Homo sapiens: one gene and its partner. The protein of the gene in region 1 interacts with the protein of each later gene in a pairwise test. Each region holds a gene or a part of one and is shown in the gene's direction. Other genes may lie near its edges.

Region 1 (3,466 bases):
CAGCCAGGTCCTGTGGTGTTTCCTGGGAAGAGTGTGATCCTGCGCTGCCAAGGGACTTTCCAGGGCATGAGGTTCGCCCTCTTGCAGGAGGGAGCCCATGTTCCCTTACAGTTTCGGAGTGTCTCAGGGAACTCAGCTGACTTCCTTCTCCACACTGTTGGAGCAGAGGACTCTGGGAACTATAGCTGTATCTACTATGAGACAACCATGTCAAACAGGGGGTCATATCTCAGTATGCCCCTTATGATCTGGGTGACTGGTAAGGACCGACCGGACATGGGACTGGGATGGAGATCATTGGAGAAGGGGTTAGGGAGAGTAATTCCTCCTGGAAGGCTAGGCTAGGCCACGGAGGGGAACTACCGTGCCCAAGAGGAGAAAGATAGAGTGTTAATTTAAGCAGGAACTCATAAGTTTCTATAGTCACCACTTTACAACCTTGGTCTCTTTCTAGACACATTCCCTAAGCCATGGTTGTTTGCTGAGCCCAGTTCTGTGGTTCCCATGGGGCAGAATGTTACTCTCTGGTGCCGAGGGCCGGTCCATGGAGTAGGATACATTCTGCACAAAGAAGGAGAAGCCACTTCAATGCAGCTCTGGGGATCCACCAGTAATGACGGGGCATTCCCCATCACCAATATATCTGGTACTAGCATGGGGCGTTACAGCTGCTGCTACCACCCTGACTGGACCAGTTCTATCAAGATACAACCTAGCAACACCCTGGAACTCCTAGTCACAGGTAAGGGGAAGAGGCTGTCGAGTGGGCATGGAAGTGTAGAAAGGAGGGAATAGACTAGTTCATGGGAGATAGTTTTCAGAGAGCTCGAGGAGAGGCAACCAATTGCCTTTCCTCTTTATTGAGCAGAGACCCCAGGGGTGATGCACTGGAAAGTGACCTCTTCTCTTTGACCAGGAGTTCATTTCTTCCAGGCTTACTCCCCAAACCCAGCCTATTAGCCCAGCCTGGTCCCATGGTGGCCCCTGGCGAAAATATGACTCTTCAGTGTCAAGGGGAACTGCCAGACTCAACATTTGTCCTGTTGAAGGAGGGGGCTCAGGAGCCTTTAGAGCAACAGAGGCCAAGTGGGTACAGGGCTGACTTCTGGATGCCAGCAGTGAGAGGTGAAGACTCTGGGATCTATAGCTGTGTTTATTATTTGGACTCTACTCCCTTTGCAGCTTCAAATCACAGTGACTCCCTGGAGATCTGGGTGACTGGTAAGGTCCTGGAGACTTCAGTACAAGTCACGATTTTGTAGTTTTTAGCAGTAAGCAATAAGGGGGTAAAAGGCTAAGTTCAGGATCATTTCTTTTAACTCTGTGTCCTTGTTGGTTGCAGATAAGCCCCCTAAACCCTCTCTGTCAGCCTGGCCCAGCACCATGTTCAAGTTAGGGAAGGACATCACCCTTCAGTGCCGAGGACCCCTGCCAGGTGTTGAATTTGTCCTAGAACATGATGGAGAAGAAGCACCTCAGCAGTTTTCAGAGGATGGAGACTTTGTCATCAACAACGTAGAAGGAAAAGGCATTGGAAACTACAGCTGCAGCTACCGCCTCCAGGCCTACCCTGATATCTGGTCAGAGCCTAGTGATCCCCTGGAGCTGGTGGGGGCAGCAGGTAAGAGAATAATCTCTCCATGGTCCTGGTGTGACACACCTGGGATCCCAGGGACAGTCCCCATGGAGACATCCCAAATCAGGAGAATGGAGGAGCTTTGGAGCCAGGGACCTGAAGTGTGTCATCTTTCTCCTAAGGATGATGAGGAGGTGGGACCTTAAATATATTTGAAGATAGTGAGTGGGTTTCTTTTCAGGCCTCTTTTCCCCAAGGAAAGGAGGGCTGCTTCTGCTTCAGCATAAACTCTGCCACTGCCCACCCCCTCTGTAGTCTGAACAGATGGCTCCCACGTGAACCCTAAAGAAGGCCAGAGTGTGGGGCAATACCAGATCAAGGGGAACATACACACGCTAATCTCCATGGCCTCGGTTTCTCCTCTTTCATCACCACAGGGCCTGTTGCTCAGGAGTGCACTGTAGGGAACATTGTCCGAAGTAGCCTAATCGTGGTGGTTGTTGTAGCCTTGGGGGTAGTGCTAGCCATAGAGTGGAAGAAGTGGCCTCGACTGCGAACCAGGTAAATAAATGCCTCATTATGGCCCCCTTCTGTGAACCAGGTGGTGCTAGAAAAACAATCATACAAATGCTCCCCTAGTATCTGAGCCCCACCGTGCAATCTGTTTTCAGTTTCTGGGTCCTCCCTTACTCATGTCTTTTTCTTTACATAGAGGCTCAGAGACAGACGGAAGAGACCAGACCATTGCCCTTGAAGAGTGTAACCAAGAAGGAGAACCAGGCACCCCTGCCAATTCTCCTTCATCAACCTCTCAGAGAATCTCTGTGGAACTGCCCGTTCCAATATAATAATCTCCTCCTTTACAAGAGCTTTCCTCTCCTCTCTCTTGCTCTCAGAGACCTATAAATCCAACCAGTTACCCTGCAAGTCAGCCCCATCTGCTGTTCCTTGGTCTCTAATCACCTGAGCTGGGTAAAGGGGATTCTGGGAGTTGAGAGCTCTGCCAGGGTGAGATGTTTCCTGAAGAGAGGTTCCCCACCCCTGTAACTCCTCACTGTACTGATTTACTGGCGCATGAAATTCTATTAAAAATGCATTCTTCTGAATAAAAAGAGTATTCACTATTTAACTTCAAAAACTATGGCTGTGGTCTTCTATTGGTCTGTTTTCCACTAACAATTTAGAAATGATGTATTGGAGCTGATCTCGATGGCAGAATAAGAGAGTGCAGGGGTACGAGAAAAGAGAAAGTTGTTCAAGGATGGGCGTGGGGAGGGGGCTCCAAAATAGCTACTTCCCAATTTGGTTTGACACATAGTCACTGACCAGAGTATTCTTTTGCCCTTCCATGGGATAGATGAATGAATGAATGGCAACACTCTCTCCAAGTTGAGCCTGAGGAGGGAAAACACAGACATTACATGCATTTCATTGTGTTACGTTTGGGTCCATAGTACATCCACTTTCAAACAGTGGGATTGGCCCTCAGCAGCACTTTGAAACTGGAAAAGCGCGCTTTGTGACCCTTACCTAGCAATCACAGGGTGTAAATGAATTCACTCTTAAGTAAGAACAATTAATCAAATCTGATACTTTGTCCCTCTCTAAAGAGAGTTCCATTTTCCCAAAGGAATGTGCGTGTAATGGTGGGATCTCAAGAAGCCAGTAAGCAGATGAGGTGGATGGTTTGGAACAGGGGACCTGCCAGTGTCGCCTCCCAGGATTCCAAATGGGGAAATGGTGGGGCGGGGGGCTAGCTCCCATTCTCAGCCACTGATCTTTCCCCCTGGATTAGAAGGCCACTTGCCCCATGAGTGGGAATTCAGTACACATTAGGCCATTAGGCCGTTTGGAATGGGGTGGGTGGCTTACCTAGTTCCTCAAAGCTTG
Region 2 (3,815 bases), on another chromosome or scaffold:
ATCTCTCTGCATCTTGGTTTTTTCATATGTGAACTAGTGTCAGAGGTAGTATACATCTTCCAAGGTTGTTCTGAGGATTGAATAGTGCCTTATAAGACACTCAGTCCAGTGCCCAGCATAGAGGAAGCATGTGGTATGTGCTGGCTGGCATGATTCCGGCCAGGTTTCTGGGAGACCTGTTGTCAGACCCAAAATAGAATAGACCCTGTTCTATTTTGCAGGGCTTCAGTTTCTTTTCTGGGCAGGGGTTGGATAGCAGACTGGAGATCTCTAAGGAATCAGCAGTTTGAAAACCTCAAAGGCCAAAAGCTCAGGAGCTTCTGGGAGATATAAGACTTTATCTGCCGGGCATGATGGCTCACGACTGTAATCCCAGCACTTTGGGAGGCTGAGACAGGCAGATCATGAGGTCAGGAGATCGAGACCATCTGGCTAACACGGTGAAACCCCGTCTCCACTAAAAATACAAAAAAAAATTAGCTGGGCATGATGGCGGGCACTTGTAGTCCCAGCTACTTGGGAGGCTGAGGCGGGAGAATGGCGTGAACCCGGGAGGCGGAGCTTGCAGTGAGCTGAGATCACACCACTGCATTCCAGCCTAGGGGACAGAGCAAGACTCCGTCTCAGGGAAAAAAAAAAAAAAAAAAGTGTGAACCTGGGAGGCGGAGCTTGCAGTGAGCCGAGATCACGCCACTGCACTCCAGCCTGGGCGACAGAACTAGACTCCGTCTCAAAAAAAAAAAAGACTTTATCTAAAAAATGAGAGGGCTTTGAGTCCTTGGAGAGCCTCCACTGGTCCTGAGTCATTTGTCATTTCTCAGTTTGAAGAACATGGGTGCTCTGGTAGCCTGCTTATATAGTTGTGGTCCCACTCCCCTCTACCCTCACTTCCAATTCAGAGCTGAGGTCCCTAGAAATGCAGCCACTTCTCTTGGCAGGAGGGTTTTTGACAGGCTGTTTTTTGTTTTTGTTTTTTTGGGACAGGGTCTTGCTCTGGCACCCAAGCTGGAACCCAGTGGCACAATCATACTAGCTCACTGCAGCCTCAACCTGCAGGGCTCAAGTGGTCCTCCTGCCTCAGCCTCCCAAGTCGCTGGGACCACAGCTAATTTTATATATTTTGTAGAGACGGAGCCTCGCTATGTTGCCCATGCTGGTCTTGAACTTCTGTTCTCAAGAGATCCTTCCACACAGGCCATTGTTAACCTGAACTTTGCCAGCTTGGAACCTCTGAGGACTCTGACTGCGTATGGACTGGAGATAGGCAGCTGCCACCCTCCCTGTTTCCACTTCTCTGTCAGCTTGGGGATGACATTGAAGCATTGGACTAGGAACAAATCCAGCCCCACCACCTTTGCTAGCTTTATGACTACTGGCAAATTGTCGAACCTCTGAGGCTTATTTTTCTCCTTTGTAAAATGCAATAAGCCTGCTTCCCAGAGTTGGTGTGAGGATCAGATGAAGTAATGGATGGAAAAGGGGCGAGGTGCGGTAGCTCACACCTGTAATCCCAGCACTTTGGGAGGCCGAGGTGGGCAGATCACTTGAGGTCAGGAGTTCAAGACCAGCCTGGCCAACATGGTGAAACCCTGTCTCTACCAAAAATACAAAAATATATATTAGCCGGGCATGGTGGTATGTGCCTGTAGTCCCAGCTACTCGGGAGGCTGAGGCAGGAGAATTGCTTGAACTCGGGAAGCAGAGGTTGAAGTGAGCCAAGATTGTGCTACTGCACTCCAGCCTGGGCGACAGAGTGAGGCCCTTCTCCAAAAAAGGATCTGGCATGCACAATAAGTTTCCATAAATATGTGTTAAATCAAGAGAAGTATCAGGTCTGAAGGGCCGCAGGGGATAGATCTTTTGGATTTAGTTCCCCTTAGCAGGCTTTCTTTGCGGGTGGAGGAGCTATGCACCTGCCTAAGCATCTGATTTCACTTCTGGCCAGGCCGCCAGTGAAGAGAAGGCCATGGTCTAATTAAAACTACCTAGCCCGGGGCCGGGCTCAGTGGCTCACGCCTGTAATCCCAGCACTTTGGGAAGCTGAGGTGGGCAGACCACAAGGTCAGGAGATCGAGACCATCCTGGCTAACATGGTGAAACCCCGTCTCTACTAAAAATAGAAAAAATTGGCCTGGCGTGGTGGTGGGCGCCTGTATTCCCAGCTACTCGGGAGGCTGAGGTAGGAGAATGGCGTGAACCGGGGAGGCAGAGCTTGCAGTGAGCCGAGATCGCACCACTGCACTCCAGCCTGGGCGACAGAGTGAGACTGCATCTCAAAAAACAAAAACAAAAACAAAAAAACCTTCCCAGCTGGACACAGTAGCTCATGCCTGTAATCCTAGCACTTTGGGAGGCTGAGGCGGGCAGATCACTTGAGGTCAGGGGTTCAAGACCAGCCTGGCCAACATGGTGAAACCCTGTCTCTACTAAAAATACAAAAATTAGCCAGGCGTGGTGGTGGGCACCTGTAATCTCAGCTACTGGGGAGGCTGAGGCCAGAGAATTGCTTGAACCAGGAGGCAGAGGTTGCAGTGAGCCAAGATCGTACCACTGCACTCCAGCCTGGGCTACGGAGGGAGACTCTGTCTCAAAACAACAACAACAAACCAAAAAAAACAACTACCCGGCCCTAGCACTGGCTCCACCATGGGGTGCAGAGGCAGAGTAGCCCCAGGGGCTGGCCCTGATGACTGTTCCTTTCCCCCCACAGGTATAGCCTTCACAGACCTCCCGGTGAGTACTACTATTGAGTCTTCCCCTCCTGGGTTTCTGGGGGCTGACTGGGATGGGGCACGGTGGTACCTGCAAGTGCAGGGTGTGGAGTCTGGTTCTTTCCCCAACCAGGGATGTGTGCCATGCTGTCAGCTTGAGGGTACCAGGAGGGGCACTTGCTGGCCTTCCTCTCTCTCCAGCAGTAAGGTCTGGTCTTCCTACGACTCTTAGCAGGTGACAGTAATTTGTGGCACTTCCAAAGGCAGCTGTGGGGCTGGGGCGGGTAGGGTGGTGGAATGAAGATAGCTCCATGGCTCAACTGGTCTAAACCAGCTGTGTGTCAGCTGGGGTGCAGAGTGTAGGGAATTGTTCCTGAACTGTGAGGGAACCTAGTCCTTGTACATACCCATCAGAGATCCCTGAGGAAAGTTAGTGCCCTAGGGGAACTCATCTGCTACTATCTAGGGCACCCCCAAGCCAGAGAGGTGAGCTTTGTGGGGTCTTCTCTTCTTAGAAAAGGATGGAGTTTTCTGGCCGGGTGCGGTGGCTCACACCTGTAATCCCAGCACTTTGGGAGGCCGAGGTGGGCAAATCACGAGGTCAGGAGATCAAGATCGTCCTGGCTAACAGGGTGAAACCCTGTCTCTACTAAAAATACAAAAAAAGTTAGCCGGGCCTGGTTGCAGGCGCCTGTAGTCCCAGCTCCTCGGGAGGCTGAGGCAGGAGAATGGCCTGAACCCGGGAGGCAGAGTTTGCAGTGAGCTGAGATCGCACCACTGCACTTCAGCCTGGGCGACAGAGCGAGCCTCCGTCTCAAAAAAAAAAAAAAAAAAAAAAAAAAGAAAAGGATGGAGTTTTCTGCTTGCTTAGTTCAAAAAAAAAAAAAAACAGAAAAGGATGGAGTTTTCTGCTTGCTTAGTTCAGGGCATATCCTCACCTCCAGCCATCCCGCACCTGTACTCCAGTCTCTATTATGAGTCATCACAGGCCTAATCACATGCAGGGCCTCCACCCAGGATGCTGGGAGCCTGGCCTGGCTCTGTGTGTTCTGGTTAGGTTCTGGAAGGAAGGAAGGTTTGCTGACTCTGGTGGCTGCTTTGGGA

What was found.
Region 2: the proteins of IGSF1 (region 1) and RANBP10 interact in a two-hybrid assay, tested with the Homo sapiens proteins (one study listed by BioGRID and IntAct).

Annotation. Positions count from the first base shown.
Region 1 is NC_000023.11:131,272,754-131,276,219, reverse strand, and holds the end of IGSF1 (immunoglobulin superfamily member 1 isoform 1 precursor), read left to right. Parts: coding exon 1-259; intron 260-454; coding exon 455-742; intron 743-933; coding exon 934-1,221; intron 1,222-1,342; coding exon 1,343-1,621; intron 1,622-2,013; coding exon 2,014-2,137; intron 2,138-2,288; coding exon 2,289-2,424; 3' UTR 2,425-2,714; downstream 2,715-3,466. UniProt on the Homo sapiens protein: Seems to be a coreceptor in inhibin signaling, but seems not to be a high-affinity inhibin receptor. Antagonizes activin A signaling in the presence or absence of inhibin B.
Region 2 is NC_000016.10:67,736,931-67,740,745, reverse strand, and holds part of RANBP10 (ran-binding protein 10), read left to right. Parts: intron 1-2,710; coding exon 2,711-2,733; intron 2,734-3,815. UniProt on the Homo sapiens protein: May act as an adapter protein to couple membrane receptors to intracellular signaling pathways.